2 separate regions of the Homo sapiens genome follow, and region 1 is linked to region 2. The links come from fine-mapping of genetic effects on gene expression. Tissue or cell type: whole blood. Region 2 holds a variant in brackets; the other region holds the start of a gene. All regions are shown on one strand. Distances are between the middles of the regions. Region 1 holds the start of WIPI2 (WD repeat domain, phosphoinositide interacting 2). Region 2 overlaps WIPI2 (WD repeat domain, phosphoinositide interacting 2).

Region 1 (13,815 bases), 50 kb before region 2:
AAAAGAAAAAAAAATTAAATTAAACAATATGGCACTTCTGGAAATCAGATTCCTCTCTCCCCACTCCCTGGGGTTTGCTGTTGTTGTTGCTTGTTGCTGCTGGTGTTTGTTTAGTGACTTTTCTGGACTTTGTAAAATCTGTGTTCTTTGTTCTGTGCAACCACTGAAGACTTTGCTTAGTTATCTCAGTGGTCAGCTAATAACTGGACAGAGATATTCCTAGACGTCTACTTGCTTTGGCAGCACATACACTAAAATTAAAATGATACAGAGAAGATTATCTGACCCTTGTGCCAGGATTACACACAAATTCGTGAATTATTCCATATTTTTAAAAAAATGATTTAAAAAATTAAAAAGTGATCTTTTTAAATGCTTTAGACCATTAAGTTTCCCAGCATTTGCTGACAAACTCTGTGTGTGTTGAGGCATGTTTTCAATACTCCAGCAAGCAACTTACAACTCTGCCTTAGCCTTCATTTCCTCTTGTGCAGACACTCAAGGTCAGCCAGAGGTGAGAGTTTAGGACCTTCTCAGGTCTTCCTGGGTGTGCGCACAGCCCTGTACATGCACGTAGCCCACTAGATTCTCAGAAACACAGCAGGGGTTTTTTAAAGTATCTTATTGGCATCTCTTTTCCCAGTTATTCCTTTAAAAAATTTTTGATCAAGCCAGGCGCAGTGGCTCACGCCTGTAATCCCAGCACTTTGGGAGGCCGAGGCGGGGGATCACAAGGTCAGGAGATCGAGACCATCCTGGCTAACATGGTGAAACCCCATCTCTACTAAAAATACAAAAAATTAGCCGGGTATGGATGTCTGGAGCCCATTCCTTTGGCTTCAACTTTTCAGACAGTGTTATCTTGTAACTGTCCTTGAAGTGAGCTGCTAAGCAGAGGAAAACTTGTTCTTCTTTTCTTTTTAACCCTTGCCTTGCCACGGTTACACCACATCAGGTAGTTGAAATGTTAAACAATTGCCACTGATTGTTTTGGACAAATGCCTTGGGCATAGGGCTATTTGCACAGATACTGGCAAACTCTTGGATCAAATAAAGACAAGCTTTGAGAATAGCATTTTTCAGCAAACTGGCAGACAAGTCAAATAGTGACAGTTTTTGGGGGATGGGGCTTTTAGGGAGCTCCAAGCCCAGCCTGCCTCTTCCAGTGACTGGCAAGATGCTTGTTTTCACAGCTACCATGGTTAAAAGCCAGCCTATTTTCATGGATCTGGAAGAGAGGGATGCTTTTAGAGCAAATTAAAATGGCACAAAATCAGTGTTTATACTGAGATTCAGCCCTCTTACTTGAACATATACTCTTCAAATTGTTGCAAGCCTTTAGATAATTTCCAGGTCTGAAGAAATTGATTTTGACCATTTTTGTCAGCATTCTCTTTGCTTATATGGAGGAGTGAGTTTTTGGAGATTCTTGCTCCACTATTCTGGAAGCATTTCCTTTTATCCATTCAATATTTTTTGTTTCCATTGCCATTCTTTACATTTTTAAAATTTTATTGTAAATTGACCATGTGTGTATTTATGGTGTACAACGTGATGTTATGGCTTATGAATACAACGTGGAATAATTAAATCAAGCTAATTAATACATCCATCACCTCAAATATTTATATTTTTTGGTGGTGAGAACATTTAAAATTTATTTTCTTAACAATTTTTTTTTTGTTTTAGAGACAGGGTCTCACTCTGTCACCTAGGCTGGAGTGTAGTGGCATGATCACGGCTCACTGCAGCCTCAACGTCCCAGGCTCAAGAAATTTTCCCACCTCAGCCTCTCAAGTAGCTGGGACTACAGCTGTGCGCCACCATGGCTGGCTAATTTTTAAAATTGTTTTGCCGAGATGGAGCCCCACTATATTGCCAAGGCTGGTCTCTAACTCCAGAGCTCAAGTGATCCTCCCACCTTGGCCTTCCAAAGTGATGGGATTACAGGCGTGAGCCACCACGCCTGACCTCTTAACAGTTTTGAAATGTACTATACAGTGTTGTTAGTTATATTCACCAGGCTGTGCAATAGCTCTCAAAAAAGCATTCCTTCTTTCTAACTGAGATTTTGTACCTTTCTTTTTTTTTTTTTTTTTTTTTTTTGAGATGGAGTCTCGCTCTGTCGCCCAGCCTGGAGTGCAGTGGCGCGATCTCTACTCACTGCAAGCTCCGCCTCCAGGGTTCACACCATTCTCCTGCCTCAGCCTCCCAAGTAGTTGGGACTACAGGTGCCCGCCACCATGCCCGGCTAATTTTTTGTATTTTTTACTAGAGACGGGGTTTCATCGTGTTAGCCAGGATGGTCTCGATCTCCTGAACTCATGATCCGCCCGCCTCAGCCTCCCAAAGTGCTGGGATTACAGGCATAAGCCACCGCGTCTGGCCTGGCCTTTTTTTTTTTTTTTTTTTTTTGAGATGTAGTTTCACTCTGTTGCCCAGGCTGGAATGCAATGGCGCGATCTCCGGCTCACTGCAACCTCTGCCTCCCGGGTTCAAGCGATTCTCCTGCCTCAGCCTTCCGAGTAGATAGGATTATAGGTGCAAGCCACCATGCCCAGCTATCTTTTTGTATTTTTAGTAGAGACGGGGTTTTGCCATGTTGGCCAGGCTTGTCTTGAACACCTGACCTCAAGTGATCCAACCACCGCAGCCTACCAAAGTGCTGCGATTACAGGCATGAGCCACCGTGCCTGGCTCCCCACTCTATCTTAATAGCATTCTTAGGTTGTGAGATATTCAAGCTCTTCTGTGTTTTTTTTTTGTTTTTGTTTGAGATGGAGTCTCGCTCTGTCGCCCAGGCTAGAGTGCAGTGGTGTGATCTCAGCTCACTGCAACCTCCGCCTCCCGGGTTCAAGCTATTCTCCTGCCTCAGCCTCCTGAGTAGCTGGGATTACAGGCATTAGCCACCACGCCCGGCCAATTTTTGTATTTTTAGTAGAGATGGGGTTTTACCATGTTGGTCTTGAACTCCTGACATCAGGTGAACCACCCACCTCGGCCTCCCAAAGTGCTGGGATTACAGGCATGAACCACCGCGCCCAGCCATAGCCCTTCTTTTTAAAGAAACTAATGCTCAGCGAGGTTAAGTGACTGATGTAAAGTCATATATCCCCGGAGAACCAAGCCAGGGTTTGAACCCCAACACACCTGTTTGATATGAGTGTTCTGCATGTCCAGCCCTTCCTCCACTCATGTACCCTTTCACTCCAGTCCTTAGTTCCCTCCTCCACACCAGCTGTTTATCCCACAAGTTTATTTAGGCACTGATCTGTGGGAGGATTGCTCAGCTCCGAAGCTAGCAAATAAGGAGACTCCACGCACCTGCAGATGAGGGTTCTGCTCTCAGGTTGAAAGCAGAAAGTCTCTTCTCTCTGAGCTGGGCATCGGGCCGGTCACCTGGAGGAATCCCAAAGTGATGATAGAAGGCCCTGAGCATCCTTCCTGCTCTCCATGCCATCAGGAATGTCAGCTGATGCTGTCTCCAGGTGAGCCAAGACATGCAGGTGCATTCCTGCGTCACACGCAGGTCACGTCCCTGGCAGAAACCCAGCCTGCTCTCCAACAACACCCTTCTGGCAGTTCCCAATACCACGCAGATGATAGAGCAATTAAACAAAAGCTGGATGAGTGAGCAGCGGCTCTCAGCTCCAGCCCATCCTGGCCACCAGAAAAGGAGGACCAGGGTTTAGTTCTTGAGGTGAAACCAGCCCAATTGTCCCCATGGAACTGATGTTTATGGTTTCTTTGAATAAACATAGAAATTGATCCTCCCAGTCTTTTTTTTTCTTTCTTTTTTTCTTTTTTTTTTTTTTTTTTGAGACAGAGTCTCATTCTGTCACCCAAGCTGGAGTGCAGTGGTGTAGTCTCAGCTCACTGCAATCTGCCTCCTGGGTTCAAGCGATTCTTCTGCCTCAACCTCCTGAGTAGCTGGGATGACAAGCACCCTCCACCATGCCCGGCTAAGTTTTGCATTTTTAGTAGAGATGGGGTTTCACCATGTTGTCCAGGCTGGTATCGAACTCCTGACCTCAAGTGATCCACCTGCCTCGACCTCCCAAAGTGCTGGGATTACAGGCGTGAGCCACCGCGCCCAGCCATTCACATCTCTTTTGACTGAGAGCTTTACACTAAGATGAAGGAATTTTGACAATGGGCTCATGCGTTTGGGATTCACCATGTGCCCTATTACCCAGATGGATGGTAGAGTGGCCTACAGAAGGCTACTGAAGCAAGCCTATGGAAGGCTCAGTCATGACTGCAGCTAAGAGACCACATCCTGTAAGACTGGGCTGTTGTTCAATAATATGCAGTACACACCTGCAAACCAAGAGTGGAGGTGGTAGTTTTTCCTTGCATATAACATCTAATAACTCACTTAAGGAACTTTTGTTTTCATCTACCCAACTCAGGGCTTACTGGAGTTTGAGATCCTAACACACAAGGAATTCGCTTTTTTTTTTTTTTTTTTTGAGATGGAGTTTCGCTCTTGTTGCCCAGGCTGGAGTGCAATGGTGTGATCTTGGCTCACCACAACGTCCGCCTCCCGGGTTGAAGTGATTCTCCTGCCTCGGCCTCCCGAGTAGCTGGGATTACAGGCAGGTGCCACCACGCCCGGATAATTTTGTATTTTTAGTAGAGATGAGGTTTCTCCATGTTGGCCAGGCTGGTCTCGAACTACTGACCTCAGGTGATCCACCCGCCTCAGCCTCCCAAAGTGCTGGGATTACAGGTGTGAGCCACCTCACCCAGGCCATGGAATTCCCTGTTTTATCCCAGGGAACAGAGTTGTGGTTCTGGTCCATTGGAAACTGAGTCTACTTCGCGGTCATTTTGGGATCTTCATTCACTGAACCAATAGAGAGAGAAGGAGTTTCTGTTCCAGCTGGGATCATAGATTGCTATGAGCAAGGGAAAGTTGGGTTGCTGCTCAGAATGAGATCGAGGAGAACTATGTCTAGAACCCCGAGGATTCACTCAGGCACCTCTTTATGTATCTTCATTCACCAATAACCATGGCGGGTGAGACATGACTATACAGTGGTAAGTAAAGAAAGAGACTTTTTTTTTTTTTTTGAGACGGAGTCTTGCTCTGTAGCCCAGGCTAGAGTGCAGTGGTGCAATCTCGGCTCACCACAACCTCCGCCTCCTGGGTTCAAACGATTCTCCTGCCTCAGCCTCCCAAGTAGCTGGGACCACAGGCGCCCGCCACCGCGCCTGGCTAATTTTTTGTATTTTTAGTAGAGACGGGGTTTCACCATGTTAGCCAAGATGGTTTTGATCTCCTGACCTCATGATCCGCCCTCCTCGGCCTCCCAAAGTGCTGTGATTGGCAGACTTATTAAAGAAAGTATGAAAGTACATTACCAAGCCAGGTGCGGTGAATCACGCCTGTAATCTCAGCACTTTATTATGAATGCAGTAGCTATGAACATTCTTATTTATGTCTTTTAGTGAAAATATGCACTAATTCTACTGTATATGCACCTAGAAATGCATATACAGTGCATTTGGCCGAGTCAAAAGGTATATATATGTTTAATTTTAGTAAATAGACCGTGCGTGGTGGCCTGAGGTCAGGAATTCAAGACCAGCCTGACCAACAAGGTGAAACCCCGTCTCTACTAAAAATACCAAAATTAGCCGGGCGTGGTGGTGGGTGCCTGTAATGCCAGCTACTTGGGTGGCTGAGACAGGAGAATCGCTGGAACCTAAGAGGTGGAGGCTGAGGTTACAGTGAGCCAAGATTGTGCCACTGCACTCCAGCCTGGGCGACAAGAGCAAAACTCCATTTAAAAAACAAAAAAACAAAAAACAAAAACAAAACTTTAGTAGGTAGTGCCCAAGTTTTCCAAAGTGGTTGAAACAATTTAGACTTTCATCTTGCAGTGAGCCGAGATCGTGCCACTGCACTCCAGCCTGGGCAACAGAGCGAGACTCCATCCACAGTGTATGAGAGTTCCAATTGCGCTCTATGGTCATCCACACTTGGGATTGTCAGTTGCTTTAATTTTAGCCAATTTGGTGGATGCTTAGTAATACCTCATTTGCCCTTAATTTGCATTTTCTTTTTTTGTTTGTTTGTTTGGTTTTTTTGAGATGGAGTCTTGCTCTGTCATCCAGGCTGGAGTGCAGTGGTGTGATCCCGGCTCACTCCAACCTCTGCCTCCCAGGTTAAAGCGATTCTCCTGCCTCAGCCTCCCGAGTAGCTAGGACTATAGGTGCCTACCACCAGGCCCAGCTCATTTTTGTATTTTTAGTAGAGACAGGGTTTCACCGTGTTGGCCAGGCTGGTCTCGAACTCCTGACCTCAGGTGATCCTCCCACCTTGGCCTCCCAAAGTGCTGGGATTACAGGTGTGAGCCACCACACCCAGCCTTAATTTACATTTTCTTAATGAGTATTAACGATGACCACCTTTTCAGGTGCTCATTAACATTCTGATATCCTCTTTTGTGAAGTGCTTGTGTTCAAGTATTTTGCCCAGTTAAAAAAAAAAAAGCTGTCTATATTTTTCTTATTGATGCGCAGAAGTTCTGGGTATAATTCCTTTGTCAAAAATATATATATTGCAGGCCGGGCGTGGTGGCTCATGCCTGTAATCCCAGCACTTTGGGAGGCCAAGGCGGGCAGATCACGAGATCAGGAGATTGAGATCATCCTGGCCAACACAGTGAAACCTCATCTCTACTAAAACACAAAAAATTAGCCTGGTGTGGTGGCACACGCCTGTAGTCCCAGCTACTTGGGAGGCTGAGGCAGGGGAATCGCTTGAACCCTAGAAGCAGAGGTTGCAGTGAGCCGAGATCGCACCACTGCACTCCAGCCTGGTGACAGAGCAAGACTCCGTCTCAAAAAAAAAAAAAAAAAAAAAAAAAAAAAAAATATATATATATATATATATATATATATATATATATAAAATAAATATATGTATCTCTAAATCTTGCCTTTTCTTCCTCTCTTAATGGTCTCTTGAAAATAGCCCATTCTTCTCAATGTTGATGAAGGCCAATCTCTCATTTTGTGGTTACTACTTTTTTTCTTTTGAGACAGAGTCTCGCTCTGTCACCCAGGCTGGAGTGCAGTGGTGCGATCTCAGCTCACTGCAACCTCCACCTCCCGGGTTCACGCCATTCTCCTGCCTCAGCCTCTTGAGTAGCTGGGACCACAGGCACCAGCCACCACACCCGGCTAATTTTTTGTATTTTTAGTAGAGACGGGGTTTCGCCATGTCAGCCAGGATGGTCTCGATCTCCTGACCTCGTGATCTGCCTGTCTTGGCCTCCCAACATGCTGGATTACAGGCGTGAGCCACCGCGCCCGGCCTGTGGTTACTACTTTTTAAAGAACTTGTTTTGTTTTGAGACAGGATCTTGCTCTGTCACCCAGGCTGGAGTGTAGTGGCGCGGTCATAGCTCACTGCAGGCTTGAACTCCCAGGCTCAAGCCATCCTCCCGCCTTAGCCTCTGAAGGAGCTGGGACCACAGGCGCACACCACCACGCCCAGCTAATTTTTGTATTTTTGTAGAGACCGGGTTTCCCCATGTTGCCTAGTCTGGTTTCAAACTCCTGGACTCAAGCAATCCGCCTGCCTCAGCCTCCCAAAGTGTTGGGATTACAGGCATGAGCCAACACATCCGCTTTAAAGTACCTGTTTAGACTACTTTGTTTATCCCAAAATCATGAAGGCATTCTCGTTTCCTTCTAGAAATTCTATTGTTTTTACCTCTCACATCTAGGACTGTAATCCATCTCAAATTAATTTTTGAATATGGTGTGAGGTAGGGGTACTTATTCCTTTTATTGAAAAGACCATCCTTTCCTCAATGATTTCCAATGCGTTCTTGACCCTATAATTAGAATTAACTTCTGTAAGCACTCATTAGATCGTTCCACTTTCCTGCCTGTCTTTAACGGCAGACCATTGCTCTTATGGACAATAATCAGATAATGGTCAGTTCCTTGCGTAACAATACGCAGCTTGATCTGGCCACCTCCTGTCTCTCCTGCCAAATCTTGCCTTGTGTCTGCCTTTCCACTCTGAACATAGAGTTCTTTGGACAGGTCACACCCTCATCCTCAAGCCCTTCCCATATAGAGTGTTTTCATGCCCTTAGACTAGTTACTCAAACTTCAGGTCTCATCTCTTCCAGGAGCCTTCTCAATAGCACAGTCCCTGTCCCTTAAATATAGGTTGTGTGACTTCTATATATGCATTCATGGTCAGGCACAGTGGCTCATGCCTGTAATCCCAGCACTTTGGGAGGCCGAGGCAGGCAGATTACCTGAGGTCGGAAGTTCGAGACCAGCGTGACCAACATGGAGAAATCCCGTCTCCACTAAACATACAAAAATTAACTGGGCGTGATGGTGCACACCTGTAATCCCAGCTACTCGGGAGGCTGAGGCAGGAGAATCACTTGAACCCGGAAGGTGGACGTTGCAGTGAGCCGAGATTGCGCCATCGCACTCCAGCCTGGTCAAGAAGGTGAAATTCCGTCTCAAAAAAAAAAAAAAAAAAAAAAAAAATATATATATATATATATATATATATATATTCGCTCATTGTACCCCCGAGTTTCTAATTATATTTATTTATTTTATTTTTTGAGATGGAGTCTCACTGTGTCGCCCAGGCTGGAGTGCAGTGGCATGATCTCGGCTCACTGCAGCCTTCACCTCCTGGGTTCAAGCAATTCTCCCATCTCAGTCTCCTGAGTAGCTGGGATTACAGGGCCGTGCCACCACAACTGGCTAATATTTTACATTTTTCCTAGAGACAGGGTTTCACCATGTTGGGCAGGCTAGTCTCAAACTCATGACCTCAGGTGATCCACCTGCCTCAGCCTCCCAAAGTGCTGGGGTTACAGGCGTGAGTCACCATGCCCAGCCTATTTTATTTTACTTTTTAGATGGAGTCTCACTCTGTCGTCCGTCCAGGCTGGAGTGCAGAGGTGCAATCTCGGCTCACTGCAACCTCCACCTGTGGGGCTCAAGCAATTCTCCCACCTCAGCCTCCCTAGTAGCTGAGATTACAGGTGCCCACCACCATACCCAGCTAACTTTTGTACTTTTAGTAGAGACGGGGTTTCACCATGTTAGCCAGGCTGGTCTGGAACTCCCGACCTCAGGTGATCCACCCGCCTCAGCCTCCCAAAGTGCTGGGATTACAGGTAAGAGCCACCACACCTGGCCTTCTATTTATATTTAAATATCTCCCCATTATAACTTCTCTGAGGGAAAGGAGGAGGCCTATTTAGTTCACATGAGAGGTGCGTCCTAAATACTGTTGAATGAATGAATAAATTTAAGGGACGATTCTGTCCCAGGAACCCAGACAGTATGGACCTTGGAGAAACAGGACGTTTCCAGTCTCAGATCTAGCACTTGGCTAATAATTATTTCTGAGCCTCGATTTTCAAATCTGTAAAATTAAGATATACTATTCTCTACTTAGGATTGTAATGGGCATCAAATAAGATAATGTGGCTGGGCACAGTGGCTCACATCTGTAATCCCAGTACTTTGGGAGGCCGAGGTGGGAGCATCACTTGAGGCCAGGAGTGCGAGACCAGCCTAGGCAACAGAGTAAGACCCCCCCCGCCCCCACCCCATCTCTACAAAAAACTTAAAAGTTAGCAGGGTGTGGTGGCATGCATTTGTGGTCCCAGCTACTTGGGAGGCTAAGGTGGGAGGATCGCTTGAGCCTGAGTTTGAGGCTGCAGTGAGCTGTGATTGAGCCTCTGCACTCCAGCCTAGGCAACAGAGCGAGACCTTGTCTTTCAAAATAATAAAATGATAAGGTAATGCGCAGAAGCATTCAGCACAGTGATTGGCACATGGAGGGCCCATTGGGGTGTTTTTGTTTTTGTTTTTGTTGTTGTTTGAGACAGAGTCTCGCTCTATGGCCCAGGCTGGATGGATTGCAGTGGCATGATCTCGGCTCACTGCAATCTCCGCCTCCTGGGTTCAAGCGATTATCTTGCCTCAGCCTCCCGAGTAGCTGGGATTACAGGCGTACACCACCAAGCCCGGCTAATTTTTCTTGTATTTTTAGTAGAGACGGGGTTTCACCATGTTGGCCAGGCTGGTCTCGAACTTCTGATCTTAGGTGATCCGCCCGCCTTGGCCTCCCAAAATGCTGGGATTACAGGCCACCGTGCCTGGCCATTGAGTGTTATTAAGAGGAGGGTACGCAGAAAACAGACTCCCGCCAGCTCTGCCCCATGCGCATGAGCGGCCGCCGCTCGCCCTCAGCCAGGCCCAGCGCGCCCCGACGCGTCCCCACGCCTGCGTGATCCACCGGAACCCAAGCCCAGGCAGGCGGTGAGAGGGCGGGGCCTCCGCAGTGCGACTGCGCCGCTCGAGGCCGTGCGTCGCGGGGGCGGGGCCGCGCAGGCGTACCGGGTGCCCCGGCTCTGGAGCATAAACAAGAGCGGGGACGGGATGAGGCGGCGGTTGATCCCAGGGTGGCGAGTGGCGGCGACCGAGGCGGCGAGCGGGGCCCGGCGCCGACCCTGAGTGCAGCCTGACCCGCCCTCGCGCGCGCGCCCTCCCCGGCCGGGCCCACTCGCCGCGCGCCCAGCCATGAACCTGGCGAGCCAGAGCGGGGAGGCCGGCGCCGGCCAGCTGCTCTTCGCCAACTTCAACCAGGACAACACGTAAGGCCGGGGTCGGGGGTCGGAGTCGGGGTGAGGCCAGGGTCGGACCCGGGCTAGGGGGAGGGCCTCGCTGCCAAGCTCGGCGGCGTCGCAGGCTCGGCCTCCCCGCGGGCCAAGGCGCGCAGAGGCGTCCCCAGGGGCGGGCCCGGGGCGTGCAGGGAGGGGCGCCCTCCAGGGAGACCCTCGGGTGCTGGCCTGGAGCTGCGGTCCCGGAGCGGGAGAGGTGGTGGAGAGGGGGCTGCTTTCACCCTCTTGCGGGGAGGCCCCCTGGCTTCAGACTTAACTACTTCTCGCAAAGTTGGGGCCGAACTTTGGGGCTTGACTTGTCTTGGCCGCCTGTGGAGCGCTGGGTGTGGGTCGCTTCCTCTCCTCTCGTCTCCTCTTCCCGCTGCTTGCTCAGCGTCTCCCACTCACTCTCCTTTGAATCAGGCCCTTCTCCTTGTCTTTTCATCGTCTTAAGACCCTTCTCTCTCTCTTGATTTTCTTTTCTTCGTTTCTCACTGTTTTTTTGTTTGTTTTTGTTTTTTGGGGTTTGTTTTGTTTTGAGACAGAGTCTTGCTCTGTTGCCCAGGCTGGAGTGCAGTGGTGCCATCTCAGCTCACTGCAACCTCCGCCTCCTGGGTTCAAGCGATTCTCCTGCCTCAGCCTCCCGAGTAGCTGAGACTACAGGCACGCGCCACTGTGCCCAGCTAACTTTTTTGTATTTGTAGTAGAGACAGGGTTTCACCATGTTGGTCAGGCTGGTCTCAAATTCCTGACCTCAAGTGATCCGCCCACCTCAGCCTCCCAAAGTGCTGGGATTACAGGTGTGAGCCACCGTGCGCGGCCCTCCCTGTTCTTTTTGGGACATCAACTTTGATGTCTTCTCCAGCAAGTAACAAACTTAGCAATAACCTTGGCATCTGACCTAGCTAGGGAGAAACTGAGCCAAGAGAGGCGTTACGGACCAGTGCCCCAGGAGTCTCAGAGCTCCAGCGGGTGGGTCATCCTCAGGGCAAGAGAAGGCCTTAATGCCAGCCCGTGCATTCGGAACGCTGTTTGTCCCCACTGATACGGGTTGGATGCTGCCTGGGAGGAGGACTTGTGGGGATGGTTAATAGATGAGCGAGCTTTCTGGAGAGAGAAGGGTGAGTTATGGGGTTGGCAGGGAGGAGAGCCATCTTGGAAGTGAGTAAGAGGAAGTGAGGAAAGAGAAGGAGTGGGGCATTTGGCATCTTACTAAGTCATTGGTTGAGTTGTTACTGGCTGAGTGGAATTAACATAGCAGAAGGTAAGATTCTTTAGGAAATTAAAAGTGAATTGTAGAATGGACAACACTCAGTGGGTGGTGTACAGCAGGCACTCAATAGCACCTCCCCAAAGCTGTGAAGACAGTCGCACAGTGGGACTGTATTGAGAGTCGGAAGGGGCAAATCACCTCATCCAACTACAGATGAGGAAATCCTTCCGAAAGGCTCCAAGCTGGTCTGGGTTTTGGAATTGGTTAATAGTGGAGCGGGGGCAGGAGTGGAATCTCGCCTCCTGAGCTCTCTTCCAATGTTCTTTCTGCTCTGCCATGCTGTTTTTTTTTCTGTTTACAGAGTAGAATTCTGAAGACAGTGAATTTAGAAATAATAGCATAACAACGTGTAAAGATGAAAACTCCCAAGTACTGTAGCGTTCTGTGTGACCAAAAGCCAGAACAACAAACAATTCGGACAACCTGTTGCAGTTCAAGTGGAATAGACTATGTTAATCCAGATAGGGAAAAGGACACATCCCAAACCAATTCTAATTTGGTTTTTAAGCCCAAGGCCACAGTATTTTGAGACCAGTAAGAAATGGTAGTAGTAGTAGGGTGGTTTATGCCTTGTATAAATTAGAGAGTTTCCAAAACATTGTCGGCCACTCTTTCAGTTTTTCACTAATTATTTCTATCAGAATGAAATCAAATAGAGAAAAGCATTCTCTTTTACTGTTACTTCAGCTGGACTGCCATGTTCCCTGTGTCACAGAAGAGTGTCACTCTGGCCTGAAATAGGACCTTTTCACACTTGGACATTTTCACACTTACCCACTTCTCCATGCTCCCCGAAGTTATTACAGTTCAAGAGATTTCTGTTACTTTGAGATTTCATAACTTTGACTTGCCAGAGAGACCTTGATGTAGTGTAAACCTAAATTGGAATGAATAGTAAGCTAGGATTATACTAGAAGTTGACTGGGCTAAAATGACGGTAATTTGTTTTAAATCTACACTTGAAAGAAATAGAGAAGTTCCCGGAGAGAGCTTTTATGGCTTATACCTTTTCCTCCCTTCTTAATCTCCAGAATTTATTGAGGAGCACAATTTTTAGCAAGTGAAAGAATGACCGTCTAGAACTCACATTTACTGTATGCAGTGAGAAAATTTGGAAGCCAGTTCACTTACTAGAATATATATGTTATAGGGTCATTTCCCTTTTTTTTGTCTTTTAAATTCTTTTTGTATTTGTTACATACCAAACTATAACTGTCCTGCCTTTCTTTACTGGTAATATGATTTCCAATGTCGTACTTTTTCATGATTCCTATCCTAAAAGTGTGCATAAGTTTTATTTGTTTTTTACCATTTGTTTTTTGTTTTGTTTTGTTTTTTTACCTAGAGAAGTGAAAGGGGCATCAAGAGCAGCTGGTCTTGGCCGTCGCGCTGTTGTCTGGTTAGTTCCAACCCTGGTTTCTGAAAGTATCACCTTGGAAGGCTTATGTTAGAGGACTTTTTTGGCTTTTTGAAATTGCAGTGAACCAGTTAATAAGTGGGAGAGGATCACTTGAATCTGAAATGGAAATATCAAGGACTACATTTTTCCAGTGGATACCACAGCTTGTGGGAAGTTAGTGATGTAGCAATGTCTGTTTTAAATGCCATGTCTAAAAGGGATGGAATGAAGAAAGGGACTTGACTTTCCAAGTCTTGTGTTTGTAGAATTGATGTTATGAAGTGTGTGGAGACAACAGGAGAAACCTGTTGTTTTCTTCCACCATGTCTCTTCTAGGTTATGCTTATTGTGCTGGGAAGGTACTGCTCTCCTCTCTTTGTTCATCTGTAAATCAAGGGTTTGGGTTTTTGTTTTTGAGATGGAGTCTCACTGTTGCACAGTTTGAAGTGCAGTGGCATAGTTATAATGATCAT
Region 2 (14,649 bases):
GGGGCGTGACGCAAACCTGGAAGGTAATTAGCCCCACAGCCCCGAGTGCTACTGCCTTCTGCTGGCTCCGGAGCCACCCCACCAGCTCCTCACTGGGAAAGATGGGGACTGGTTCTGAGAACATAAGCGAGGTTGGTAAATGGGTGTTCCCAAGGCCTCTCTCAAGGCTGAATTCAGTTTCGTTTCCTTTTTTTTTTTTTTTTTTAAAGGAGAGATGGGGTTTCCCTATGTTGCCCAGGGTGGTCTCAAACTCCTCCTGGGCTCAAGTGATTCTCCCGCCTCAGCCTCCCACAGTGCTGGGATTATAGGCATGAGCCACCGTACCAGGCTCATTTTCTCCGTTTTTAAAGAAAATGTCATCCTGGCTCAGGTGACTCTGGGGTCACGTGACTTGGGCCCAGACTGGCCACCTCTCAGCCAAGATACCACCCTGAAAAGTACTGCCAAGGGTTTTGCCTCAGTCTTTTCCCTCCCACCTTTTTCGTCCTTCAGCAAATCTGCATCGAGTACTGCCTTCATGCTGGGCCTGTGAAGTGCAGAAGCTGTAGGGGAATGAGGCCAATGGGCTCCCCTCCGGCGGCAGCACTAAGACCCATGCATGAGATCCTCCAGCCACAGCCTTGGCTATGTGAGCCACCTTCTTAAAAAAGCCAACTCGCACTCCAGTGGGAGAGCCTGTGGTTTTGCACCCACGCAGGGCTGTGCCTGCTCGCTGCCACTCCCATCTGTGAACCGGCACTTCCAGTTCATGAGCCCACCCTGAGAGTCTCCTAGTGTCATTTTTTTTCCTGGTGTTATTTTTGAGCTCTTAACCAGCTTGAGAGAGTTTGTGGCCCGTCCATGAGGGAGCCTCTGTTTACTGTGCAGGCATCATTTTGACATTTATGAATGTCAGAGAACAAATGACTTCATCTCGAGCTGCCTAAGGCTGCAAAGAGTTCATTAGAAAGCAATCAGAATTCAGAACGTCTTAGTACAGGCTTCAGTTTATAAATATACACCAGTGTTTCCAAAACACAGTCCTCAGTGTGTGTCATGGGGTCTGTGGTGTGTCCCCAGCCTTTGAAGGGTGACTTCGTCGTCTCTTTGCAGCCTACACAGACGACCTGGGTGCTGTGGGTGGCGCCTGCCTGGAGGACGAGGCCAGCGCCCTGCGCCTGGATGAGGACAGCGAGCACCCGCCCATGATTCTTCGGACTGACTGAACTTGACCTGTGACCTCTGACCCGGGGAGCAGAGAACACTGGCTTCACAGAGGACTTTGTGCATTGCTGCTATGAACTTTGACCTGAGTCGGGGGAGAGGATGGCAGAGACTTTATTAAAAAAAAAAAAAGATTGTAGTGGTAGTCTAACTCCATAACGCTGAGGAAATACATCATTTTCACTTCAGTGGCTTTTAAATCCTGCTTATGAATTTTAGCTTTTTGTTTGTTTGTTTTCTCTTTTTGCCAAAATTAACTGTTTGGTGAAGCCCGCAAAACCTCCTCGCTTTGCATGCATGAACGTGCCAAGCCAGCATAGGGGAGCTAGAAGCCACTTTCCAGCCACCTGCCGTTGGGTTTTTTCATATCTGTACATAATGCCGAGTGCGTAAGGAAACCGTGGCGTCGCGCACAGTGGGTCTGCTTGTCAAGGCCAGTTCTGCAGTGACAGGCCCAGGGGCTGCCCACCAGGTGTGCTGGGCAGACTTCAGCTGGGACAGAAGTCCGATCTCCCTAGGGCCCCACCTGGACCATTTTCCCTCCGTTTTATTTTGTTAATTAAATTCTTTCCAAATTGGATCGCTCTGGGATTTCTTCCATGGTGGACTTTTGTTTCTGATCTTGTTTTCCCTGTGGATATTGGAGGACAGCGAGGTTCTTTCTGATACTAAAAACCTTTCTTTCAGGCAGCAAATGAACTTGAAAGGTTGCCTGGACTCGCTGGAGCAAAGGAAAGCGATTTTGTTTGTATAATTAAATGATCTGTTCTTCTACTTCACTCTTCCTGTTGAAAAACTGTGTGATTTTTTTTTTTTTTTAAGTAAAGTTTGTAGCTCCTCCCATGCCCAGGAAAGCACAGAACTCAAGTGTGGTGGCCGTCTGAGCTGTCCTTTCGCTGGCCCCGCTGTCCGCAGGGGCTTCCTACCTGTGTGAGAGGTCGTAGCGGGAGACAGCAACAGAGAGTAGGCGGCTGGGCCACGTCCTTCACAGGGCGTCATGTGCCTTTCTATTTTCATCTTAGAAAATTTCCTCAGCAAACCGATGAGAGATTGTGGTTGCAAGCTTCAGTATTTGCCTCGCTTCCCTTCCCTTTTCATATTTACAGAATTAAAACAACCTCAAGTACCTCAGACTCTGCATTCCAAACCAAGGCACCCAGCAGCCAAAGTGTCGAGGGCATTTAAGTGGCATTAATGGCAGGAGAGATGGTTTTAGAATCTATGGAGTGGTGGAAGTTACGGATAGAAGGGAAAAGGCAAAAACTATTTACCCTGCCTTTGCAGGCTGGGGTTTTTGAACCGAGGAAGGCTGGGACGCCTGTTTCCAGATGGTTGTCATGGTCACGCTGGGCGAAGAGCTGGAGGGGAGTTGTCCCCTCAGCTGAGCGGCTGCGGTGAAATGCCCCAGTGTTCCTGGGTTGGCTTTACGGCAAACTAAATGCAGGGGACGCTGGAGTCCGACTCACCTACACCGGCTTCCTCCCAGCCGCTGGTGTGCGGCACACACAACATCTGCATTAGGCAGAGGTGCAAGTGGGCTGATTGAACTTTTCCTTCAAAACCTGCTTGTCTGTCCTGGACCTTTGATGAAATGGGATCCCGGTCACGCAGGCTGAGACAGTGGGGACCGCCGAGGCCAGAGTGGGCTATGCTTGAGCAGGGATGAGAAGGGCCGCGGCAGCACGCAGCCTTGACCCACGCCTGCGTCTTGTGGTGCAAGGCCAGAGGGCTCTCTCTAGAACCTGACCGTGCACTCCATCTCCTGGGAGCCACTTTTGGCAAGAGTGAGTGTGGGGGGAAAAAGTGTGCACAAGAGATACGGAACCCTGAGCTAGGGTTTCCTGTCACCAAAGAGTGAGCTGCATTTCCAGTTCTGCGTTAAAGTATCGTTTGTTCTGGTGCCTGCCTGTGGTGGTGATTTGGAGACTCAAATTTCCTTTGCCAGGTCTCTTTTGTCTTTCTTTGGGATTGGTAGTATAGAAGATGCTGGGAATTGTCTTCCTCGCTCAGCCTCGGCTTCCCGCACTGTAAGATGAGGCAGTTGCAGAGGAGGCCTCGGACGTCCTGTGACCCTCGGCCCACACTCCCCCTTGGGTGGCCCTGGCAGGGCTGGCTAGGTGCGTTCCCTGCAGACCACGGGAAGCCCTGTGCTTGCCTGGGTCAGGGCTAAGCTGTGCGCCCTAGAGGAGGGAGGAGGACTGCAGATTCTTGGTCGAGAAGAATGAAGAGGATTTCTGTGTTTGCTGAGCAGCCATTGTGGAGGGTTACCCGCCTCCACTTTCCCGTTGCCCATTTCACTGCCACCAGCTCCTCTTCCTCTGCTCGAACCTATGAGTCCCAGCCTCACTGGCGGCCTCAGACATGCTCAGGAGTGACGGGGACAGAGGGAGGCCGCTGAGTTGCCCGTTAGAACTCTTACTGCTGCGCCAGTGACCCAGGTGGAGAGGGACCCTGAACCAAACAGAACGTGTGCTAATTTTCCGAACTCCAAACTGTACACTCATATTCATTTTTAAATTGTATTTTTCCAAACTTCAAAAAGGACGATGAGCGTGGGGGATAGGAAACAAAACCTGTAAACGTTGTGAATGGGCTCAGTGGACTCTGGGACCAAACCTTCTGTAATCTCTAAAACAATGGGACCAAGAGCTGGATGGAACCTGGAGTCAAAAAGAACTGCTTCAGTCCCCGCTGTACCGCCTGCCTAGCTGTGGGAGCAGGCAGGGCGCCTGGGAGCCTGCGTTTTCTGGACCGTTCCATGGGACTCATCCCTACCTCACAGGGCTGTTGTGAGGTGTTGTGTGACTGCGTGTCCTGCAAACGCCCAGCTCGGTGCCCAGCCAGCGGTGGGCACCCAATAAACGCTACAACATAAATGTGTCTTCTG[C/T]AATTAAACACGATTTTTATTCAGTTCTGGTTTTTGAATAAGCCAGGCGGGAGGGAGGTGACAATACGGGTAAGAAGTGTAATTCAGAGGCTAGGCACGGTGGCTCACACCTGTAATCCCAGCACTTTGGGAGGCCAAGGTGGGCGGATCACTTGAGGTTAGGAATTCGAGACCAGCCTGGCCAACATGGTGAAACGACATTTCTACTAAAAATACAAAAATTAGCTGGGGGGGTGGGGCGGGGGATGGTGCACGTCTGTAATCCCAGCTACTTGGGAGGCTGAAGCAGGAGAATCGCTTGAACCTGGGAGGCAGAGGTTGCCAGGAGCCAAGATTGCATCAGTGCACTGCAGCCTAGGCGACAGAGCAAGACTCTGTCTCAAAAAAAAAAAGTGTAATTCACATGGAGGTTACACGTGGGTCTCTTTCATCCCCGCCTTTTCTCAACACCAAGCTTAACGGGCAGGTGGTGCGAGCTGGTCTGGGAGGTGGTGGGCGCCCTGGAACAGCAGGCCCTGCCCCTGTCAGGGGACCCAGGAGCTCCATGGCTGCCGTTCCCTGCCACAGAGAGAACTGGGTGATTCTTCCCACGCACGGTTTCATTTGGAGAGGGGAGAGAGGGAGTCTTCCTACCTCCACAACCAGCAGTGGGCTCCATGTGTAAAAGGCCGGGAGTGCTTTGGCCACAGCTTAGCCAAGGAAACGGGACAAGGGGTGGCAGAAAACATGCTCATCCCTGTTGCTCGTCTGGTTTTTTTGGTTTAGTTTTTTGTTTGGGGGTTTTTGTGGTTTTTTTTTTTTGAGACTGAGTCTCGCTCTGTCGCCCAGGCTGGAGTGCAGTGGCACGATCTCGGCTCACTGCAACGTGCACCTCCTGGGTTCAAGCAATTCTCCCTCAGCCTCCTAAGTAGCTGGGACTATAGGCACGCACCACCACGTCCGGCTAATTTTTGTATTTTTAGTAGAGACCGGGTTTCACCATGTTGGCCAGGCTGGTCTCGAACTCCTGACCTCAAGTGATCCACCCGCCTCGGCCTCCCAAAGTGCTGAGATTATAGCCATGAGCCACCTCGCCCCGCTGCTCGTGGTTTTCATAACCACATTGGCAAAGGGTGGGGATGGGCCAGGCTTGTTGTTTCGTGTGTCCCCTGCCCTACATCTTTGTAGACCAGACCTTTGCATGCAGGGAATGACCGAGTCACTTGTTTGAAATGTACATGAGGTGGCTCATGCCTGTAATCCCAACCCTTTGGGAGGCAGAAGCGGGCGGATCATCTAAGGTCAGGAGTTCGAGGCCAGCCTGGCCAACATGGCAAAACCTGTCTCTACTAAAAATACAAAAAGTAACCAGGCGTGGTGGTGGGTGCCTGTAATCCCAGCTACTCTGGAGGCTGAGGCAGGACAGTTGCTTGAAACCGGGAGGTGGAGGTTGCAGTGAGCTGAGTCATGCCACTGCACTCTCACCTGGGCAACAGAGTGAGACTGTCTCAAAAAAGAAAAAGAAAAAGAAACGGACATGTGACACCATGGCCAGCAAGCAGGAAATCCAAATGCGTTATTTTACAAGCGTACTTAAGAGAGAGGCGGGACCGTTCGGCTTCAGCTCTGTGGTGTTGGAGATGTAAAAAGAACGTGCAGGGAAACCGTGGGACTTCTGTTTGGGTCGCCTCCCTGCTTTACATAGAATTCTCTTTTTTATGACTTATTTCTTACTGAAAATATATCATGATAATCATTGGCCAAGCAGATAGGGTTTTTCTGACGTATCTTTTAGTTCTGACCCAGGTCATAACCCTTCACCTATGTCATACCTTTTCAATCTGTGGGTTTTTCTGAAGCACAAAAACAAAACAAAACCAATCTCAGGGTTTTGAGATGTGACCAGTTCTTACCCTTCCCTAATAACCAGCTAGGAAAGTCTCTAATTTAGAAAAATGAGGCCGGGCGCGGTGGCTCATGCCTATTGTAATCCCAGCACTTTGGGAGGCCAAGGCGGGTGGATCACAAGGTCAGGCGTTTGAGACCAGCTTGACCAACATGGTGAAACCCCGTCTCTACTAAAAATACATGGGCATGGTGGCATGTGCCTGTAATCCCAGCAACTCAGGAGGCTGAGGCAGGAGAATCGCTTGAACCCGGGAGGCAGAGTTTGCAGTGAACAGAGATCATGCCACTGCACTCCAGCCTGGGTGACAGAGCACAGCTCTGTCTCAAAAAAAAAAAAAAGAAAAAAGAAAAATGAAATCTTTCTAAAGTTCAGAATGTGAAGAGACTGTCTTGATTCCTCACCTCTACATCGTTTCTTTCTATAGTTAGTTATAATGTAAATAGATTCCTCTTAACACTTCATTTTAGGTGAAGCTGTTTTTGGTGCTGCCAGTGTGCGTGCATGTGTGTGTGTGTGTGTGTCTGTGAGTGTGTGTGTGTGTGCCTGCCTGAGCTTCAGGTGAACATACTGATTACATTCCCCCACCAAATCTGACTGAAAGCCCATTGCTATCAGCATTTTATAACACGCTAAAGAATTGGACGTGGTGGCTCACACCTATAATCCCAGCTTCTTGGGAGGCCAAGGCAGGAGGATCGCTTGAGACCAGCAATTTGAGGCAAGGCCAGTCTGGACCACATAGCAAGACCCCCTCTCTTAAAATTAAAACCTGTGTTCTATTTTTTTGTTGCCTACTCACAGGCTGAACATCTCATTTGTTTTTGTTTGTTTGGTTTGTTTTTGAGACAGTCTCACTCTGTCACCCAGGCTGGAGTGCAGTGGTGCGATCTCAGCTCACTGCAACCTCTGCCTCCCAAGTTCAAGCGATTCTCCTGCCTCAGCCTCCTGAGTAGCTGGGATTACAGGTGCCCACCACCACGCAAGGCTAATTTTTGTACTTTTAGTAGAGACGGGGTTTCACCACGTTGGTCAGACTGGTCTCGAATTCCTGACTTCGTGATCCACCCACCTCGGCCTCCCGAAGTACTGGGATTACAGGCATGAGCCACCGAGCCCAGCCTTAAACATCTAATTTGTACCAAATTGCCCTATAATTCTACCTAGAATATTATAGCAAAATGCCAGAAGCCTGACTAAAATCTTTTAAAGAAACCCAACTCGGCCAGGCGTGGTGGCTCACACCTGTAATCCCAGCACTTTGGGAGGCCGAGGCGGGTGGATCACGAGGTCAGGAGATCGAGATAGTCCTGGCTAACACGGTGAAACCCCGTCTCTACTAAAAATACAAAAAAGTAGCCGGGCGTGGTTGCAGGCGCCTGTAGTTTCAGCTACTCGGGAGGCTGAGGCAGGAGAATGGCCTGAACCCGGGAGGTGGAGCTTGCAGTAAGCCGAGATCGCCCACTGCACTCCAGCCTGGCGACAGAGTGAGCCTCCGTCTCAAAAAAAAAAAAAAGAAAAAGAAAAAAGAAAACAAAAAGAAACCCAGCTCTCCCAGGGTGGGGGGCATTACACAGGGGAGCCCCTCCGGGTGTCGCCGCAGCTGAATGATTGCGTTGGTGGAACAGCTGGCCCGCTTGTGCGTGGGCCAGGACACGGTGGACCTGTTCCGCCTGCGTTCTTGCCGGTCCATGTTTGGATTAGCATGTGAGTTTAAACATAGTGCTGATGCGGCGATTCTTCTAGAAGCACATCCTTCTCTGAGCTGAATTGCTTCATCACACACTTCCTTCTGGCTTGGGGAGTTCCTTTTCATCAAAGGCCAAGCCTTGTGTGTTTCGGTCCTGCCCATCTCCGTGCGGCCTGCGGGACGTTGGTTGGCGTGGAGTCTTCACAGCCGGCTGTCCAGGCTGGCAGCTCTCCCATCAGGGCTTCTCACAGCCACCGTCTGTCTGAGCAGACGCTGAGCATCGTGTCATCCCTCGGACACACACAAGACTCCACTATTCCCTGTGCTGATTTCTGTTTCTGTTACAGCTTCTGCTTCTGATTTTATTTTTTTTTTCTTTGAGATGGGAGTCTCGCTCTGTAGCCCAGGCTGGAGTGCAATGACATGATCTTGGGTCACTGCAACCTCCACCTCTCAGGTTCAAGCAGTTCTCCTGCCTCAGCCTCTGGAGTAGCTGGGATTACAGGTGCGCACCACCAAGCCTGGATAATTTTGCATGTTTCTGTAGAGACGAGGTTCCACCATGTTTCCAAGGCTGTTCTCAAACTCCTGGCCTCGGCCGGGCGCGGTGGCTCACGCCTGTAATCCCAGCACTTTGGGAGGCTGAAGTGGGCGGATCACCTGAGGTCAGGAGTTCGAGACCAGCCTGGCCAATATGGTGAAACCCCGTCTCTACTAAAAAAGAAAAAAAAATTAGCCTGGCTTGGTGGTGCGCCCCTGTAGTCCCAGCTACTCGGGAGGCTGAGGCAGAAGAATCACTTGAACCTGCGAGACGGAGGTTGCAGTGAGCCAAGATCACGCCACTGCACTCCAGGCTGGGCGACAGAGCAAGACTCTGTCACAAAAAACAAACAAACAAACAAACAAAAAAACCTCCTGACCTCAGGTGATCCACCCGACTCGACCTCCCAAAGTGTTGAGATTACGGGCGTGAGCCACTGCGCCCGGCCCTGTTGCTGCTTTTAGAAGTGGCTTTTTCTTCCTGTGCGACATTACTTTTTAGTGGGTCAGCGCAGAAATGTGCTTGGGCTCCCTGCGACGGCGAAGCACCTTTCCTCAAGGGAATCTGAAGACTTTTCCCTGCCTTTCCTCTCCCTCGGGGAGGTCCCCTCAGCGCCCTCCTCTTGACCTTCCCTGGTGCGTTTAGTGCTGAGCCTGTGCCTGAGCCTGGGGACCTGGGAGAGTTCGGACCGAAGTCCACCGAGGGCCGCAGAACGGCAGGGTTGGGGAACTGGCTCCCTGGCGCGCACAGCTCTGTCTGCAGGGCGCGGATCTGCGCTCGGTGTGAGGAGGCACGGTGCATGTTAAGTCGAGAAACTTCTAAACTCCGCCACCAGCTTTGGAAATAACAGCTGGGATTTTCTGCTTAAACCAGCATCCCAGAGCACACGGGTACTAACTAGCAGAAGCCCTAAGTAAAATGAAACGGGCTCTGAAGGAAGTCCTGGAGCCTCCTGCCCGCCTGCCCTCGCCATTCATTCAGTCCTGCAGTGACTCTGAGGAATGGCGTGGGCGGGAGGACAAGTCACCTTTAAAGCCAAGCACCCGGTGGGCGCAGAGGGTCCCGCCTGGAATCCCAGCACTTCGGGAGGCTGATGCGGGCGGATCACGAGGTCAGGAGTTCGAGACCAGCCTGGCCAAAATGGTGAAACCCCGTCTCTACTAAAAATACAAAAAATTGCCTGAGCGCGGTGGCTCACGCCTGGAATCGCAGCACTTTGGTAGGCCGAGGCAGGCAGATCACAAGGTCAGGAGTTCGAGACCAGCCTGGCCAACGTGGTGAAACCCCATCTCTACTAAAAATATAAAAAAATTGGCTGAGCGTGGTGGCGCGTGCCTGTAATCCCAGCAACTCGGGAGGCCGAGGCAGGAGAATCGCTTGAACCCGGGAGGCGGAGGTTGCAGTGAGCCGAGATGGCGCCACCGCACTCCAGCCTGGACGACAGAGTGAGACTCTGTCTCAAAAATAAATAAATAAATAAATAAATAATGCAGATATCTTTAGAAATATAAAATAGTATCCTAGGGGCCAGGCACAGTGGCTCACACCTGTAATCCCAGCACTTTGAGAGCCCGAGGTGAGAGGATTGCTTGAGGCTGGGAGTTGAAGACCAGCCTGGGCAACAGAGCAAGACCCCCGTCTTTACGAAAAATTAAAAAATTAGCCAGGTGTGGCCGGGCATGGTGGGTCACGCCTGTAATCCCAGCACTTTGGAGGCCGAGGCAGGAGAATCACAAGGTCAGGAGATCAAGACCATCCCAGCTAACACGGTAAAACCCCCTCTCTACTAAAAATACAAAAACTTAGGCGGGCGTGGTGGCGGGCGCCTGTAGTCCCAGCTACTCGGGAGGCTGAGCCAGGAGAATGGCGTGAACCCGGGAGGCGGAGCTTGCAGTGAGCCGAGATCGCGCCACTGCACTCCAGCCTGGGCGACAGAGCGAGACTCCAGCTCAAAAAAAAAAAAAAAAAAAAAAAAAAAAATTAGCCAGGTGGGCTGATATGCCCAGCTACTCAGGAGGCTGAGACAGGAAGATCACTTGAGGCCAGGAGTTCGAGACCAGCCTGGGCAACAGTTTGAGACCCGCCGCAGCCTCTACCAAAAAAAAAAATAATAATATTCTAGTTTACAAGCATGCTACAGTTACAAACTCTTCCTTGGTAAGATTTTCCTCCCCAGAGCGCTGTTGTCAGACTCCTGGAGCTGCTGAGGCCCTGCAAGCTGGGTAGACAAGGGAGGCAGGCCGGGCCAGGTGAGCTCCCCTGCACCCCTCCCCGCCCCCGCCCTGCCTTTCCTGTGTTTCTCTGGACCCTAACGCTGCGAGACACAGACGGATAGACCATCAGGACCTCAGGAGCCGCCTGAGTCTCCTCCCAACCCCGAGCTCTGAGGAGGGTGGATGGTTTTCTTCACGGCCACTAGGTGGTGGAAGTCTCCCAACTGTGCAGACATCTGCGGGGCTGGTGGGTTGGCGAGCTGTGGGGGAGGGTGCCCTGGTCAGACTGTGTCCTTGGGGGCTGGGCGGTCGCACCCGGGAGCTTCGCCAATGTGCTAGTTTGAATGAACTCCCAATGCAAAAATGGCAAACAGAGGCCGTGGAGAAACCTGGCTTCCTCCGACAATGGGAATTTCACTCTGTTCTCGTTACCGCCTGTGGATGAATGTGGGTCTCGGAGGGCGCCTCTCCCTCCGGGGAGAGGGTGACCTTGCCACAGTGGGACTCCATTCCAGCGGCAGCTCCCTCCCCTGTCTGTAGCCCCACGGCCTCCTGGCCGCCTGCCTTCTTATTGGCCACCCCTCCCCTCTCAACGACCTGTTTCCTAATCATGCCATTCCCCCGCGGGAGAGCCGATTCATCACCATTTAAAATGGTGAATCGATAAAGCCGGTCAGGCCGGGCGAGGTGGCTCACGTCTGTAATCCCAGCACTTTGGGAGGCTGAGACAGGCGGATCACCTGAGGTCAGGAGTTTGAGGCCAGCCTGGCCAACATGGTGAAACCCCGTCTCTACTAAAAATACAAAAATTAGCTGGGCATGGTAGCGGGCGCCTGTAATCCCAGCTACTCAGGAGGCCGAGGCAGAACACTAACTTGAACCTGGGAGGCGGACGTTGCAGTGAGCCGAGATCGCGCCACTGCACTCCAGCCTGGGCGACAGAGTGAGAGTGCATGTCAAAAAAAAAAGAAAGAAAGAAAAAGAAAAAGCCAGTCAGATCTAGAGAGGGCGACCGGAGCATCACCCCCAGACGGCTTGACTCTGAGCTCCTGACCTCAGCCTTCAGACAGAGGCTCTCCCAACACACACACACATAGACACGTGCGCACACACACACACACACACACACACACACCCCGCACCAGCAAACGCTGTCTGCTCTGAAGCAGGCACTGTGTAGTCTGATATGTCCCCGGGGAAGGAGGGTGGCCAAGCACAGACAGCTCCCGAGAGAGCCTGAGGAGAGAGCTGCCCAGCACCTCAGGATGGAGAAAGTGCTAGAGAGGCCCTTGGCTTCCCTGCATCCCACGGAGATAACAGCAGGTACAGGGAGTGAGGTTCGAGAGCAGTGAGTGTAAACCATAAGGCTCTGCCTGGGCAATACATGGTCCTTTCTCTCTTTTTTTTCCCTCCCTTCCTTCCTTCCCTCCCTCCCTCCTTCCTTCCTTTTTTTTTTTTTTTTTTGAGATGGAGTTTCACTCTGTCACCCATGCTGGAGTGCAGTGGTACAATCTCAGCTCACCGCAACCTCCGCCTCCCAGGTTCAAGCGATTCTCCTGCCTCAGCCTCCCGAGTATCTGGGATTACAGGCACGTGCCACCACGCCTGGGTAATTTTTGTACTTTTAGTAGAGATGAGGTTTCGCCATGTTGGCCAGGCTGGTCTCGAACTCCTGACCTTAGGTGATCCGCCTGCCTCGGCCTCCCAAAGTGCTGGGATTACAGGCATGAGCCGCTGCACCCAGCCTCATTCTTTCTTTTTTCTTTTAGAGTTCGGGTCTCACTCTGTCACCCAGGCTGGAGTGCAGTGGTGGGATCACAGCTCACTGCAGCCTCAACCTCCTGGGCTCAAGTGATCCTCCCACCTCAGTCTCCCAAGTAGCTGGGACTCCTGGTGCCCACTACTATGCCTTTTTGTAGAGGCAGGTTCTCGGTACATTGCCCAGGCTGGTCTTAAACTCCTGGGCTCAAGCAGTCCTCCTACCTCAGTTTCCCAAAGTGCTGGGAATACAGTCATGAGGCACCACACGCAGCCACCTACTCATTCTAAGACCATTCCTTCCCTGTGGTGGTGTTTATGAAATTGGAGTGTTAGGGGCGGGGCACGGTGGCTCACGCCTGTAATCCCAGCACTTTGGAAGGCCAAGGCAGGTGGATCATTCGAGGCCAGGAGTTCGAGGCCAGCCTGGCCAACATGGCAAAGCCCCGTCTCCTTTAAAAAATACAAAAATTAACCAGGCTTGGTGGTGCGTGCCTGTACTCCCAGCTACTCAGGAGGCTGAGGCACGAGAATCGCTTCAACCCAGGAAGCGGAGATTGCAGCGAGTTAAGATCGCACCCCTACACTCCAGCCTGGGTAACAGAGTGAGACTCTGTCAGAAAGAAAGAAAGAAAGAGAGAGAGAGGGAGGGAGGGAGGGAGGGAAAGAAAGAGAGAGAGAGAAAGATAGAAAGAAAGGAAGGAAGGAAAAGAAAGAGAGAGAGAAAGAAAGAAAGAATGAAAGAAAGGAAGGAAGGAAAGAAGGAAGGAAGGGAAAGAAAGAGAGAAAGAAAGGAAGGAAGGAAGGAAGGAAGGAAAAGAAAGAGAGAGAAAGAAAGGAAGGAAGGGAAAGAAAGAGAGAGAGAAAGAAAGAAAGGAAGGAAGGGAAAGAGAGAGAAAGAAAGAAAGGAAGGAAGGAAGGGAAAGAAAGAGAGAAAGCAAGCAAGCAAGCAAGCAAGCAAGAAAGAAAGAAAGAAAGAAAGAAAGAAAGAAAGAAAGAAAGAAAGAAAGAAAATTGGAGTGTTTCACAGCCCAGGGTCATTAATTTGGCCACCTGTCCCCTGGAAATCCGTAACTAAGTGACACCTTAGAATGAAAGAAACGCCTCATGGTGTGCACAGTGACCCATTGGCTTCAGGGCACTTTGCTCACAAAACACCCCTCCCCAAATAGAAGACTCTCCTGGGCAAGGTAACTCATCCCAGCTGGTGGCACAGGGCAGGACAGGGTTCAGTTGCTCCTGGCAGAGGCTGAGGGAACAGGGCCGGGGGAGGCCCCTGCTGTCCTTGTCTGAAGAGCCAGGATCTGCATAGCTCCCCACCCTCAGCCACCCCACCCTGGCTTCCCTGGGCCCCTTCTGAGATGCAGAGATGCGTTCTGGGATTGGCCACCATCCACCCCCAAGCCCAGACCATGGCACCATGCCCCAGGCTGCCTGCGGCCCTCTTCTTGACAGACTCGCAGTCAGGTCCCTGCAGCCTCCTTGGTGCTGACAAATGGCCCCCAGGAGGGTCCCTGGCCACTGCCCCAGAACCCACCATGGGCCCCGCGTCCTGGCCGCTGGCCAGCTCTGTCATTTATGTCCTTCTTGACCTTCGTGGGAGCGCCCAGGCTGCTCCATTCTGTCCTGAAACCTACACCAATGCAGAACGTCACTGTGGTTGGCAAAGTCACTCTGTTTGCTTCAGGTGGGCACCGCAGGCAGGGCTGAGGGCTGTGGCTGCCGTGTTGCCGGCAAAGGAGAAAAACCCGCAATTTGTTCAGACGAGCTCCTTTGCTTAAGGCTCTGGGGAGCATCTTTTCTGGTTATTTTCAGCTTTCTGCTCCTTTTGAGGAAGTTCAAGGGATCAGCTCCTGTCCCCACCCCCTGACTCCAGGGGTCAGACTGTGTCAGTGTTCTGGGGGTCCCTCTTAAGGAGGCACCCCAAATCTGGAAGAACCTCTGGGCTCCTAGAAAGATGAAGACACGTAGAGCTGTGCCCATCACTGGGCAGTTTCCATCAGAGAGGGCTTTGGGGCTTCGGAGCACGGGTCCCTCCCCAGGCCCTGTCCTCCAGAAGGATTTGGATGGGGTCATCGGAGAGAGAGAGCTCGTCCTACATGGCAGCAAGTGGCTCTTTTCACAAACTGTCCCTGCCCCTAGCTGGGCATAGTGGCACGCACCTGTAGTCCCAGCTACTGGGGAGGCTGAGATGGGAGGATCACTTGAGCCCAGGGTCTCGATCAAGGCTGCAGTGAGCTATGATCGCACCACCACATTCCAACCTGGGGGATAGAGTGAGACCCTGTCTCAAAAACAACAACAACAACAAAACAACAAAAACCAGTCTCTAGCCAGGCACAGGGGCTTACACCTGTGTAATCCCAGCACTTTGGGAGGCCAAGGTGGGTGGATCATCTGAGGTCAGGAGTTCAAGACCAGCCTGGACAAGATGGCAAAATCCCATCTCTACTAAAAATAGAAAAATTAGCC

Evidence for each region.
Region 1: it holds the start of WIPI2, and the variant in region 2 is fine-mapped to the expression of WIPI2 in whole blood (TOPMed, PIP above 0.99). The same link has a PIP of 0.9 or more in monocytes after interferon gamma.

What each region holds. Positions count from the first base shown.
Region 1 is chr7:5,179,830-5,193,644 of GRCh38, forward strand. WIPI2 (WD repeat domain, phosphoinositide interacting 2) reads left to right here and starts at 10,404. Exons shown (of 13, transcript NM_015610.4): 1 at 10,404-10,664; 2 at 13,289-13,342. The coding sequence starts at 10,591. It also overlaps the pseudogene RNU6-215P. RefSeq lists silencers at 3,176-3,376, 7,386-7,515, 10,189-10,838, 10,849-10,898.
Region 2 is chr7:5,229,743-5,244,391 of GRCh38, forward strand. WIPI2 (WD repeat domain, phosphoinositide interacting 2) reads left to right here. Exons shown (of 13, transcript NM_015610.4): 13 at 1,093-4,098. The coding sequence ends at 1,205. Among named protein-coding and RNA genes, the nearest start is that of SLC29A4, 46 kb to the right of the region's middle. RefSeq lists enhancers at 2,215-2,364, 10,476-10,770, 11,244-11,333 and a silencer at 4,931-4,990. The variant C/T (reference allele first, on the strand shown) is at 4,091.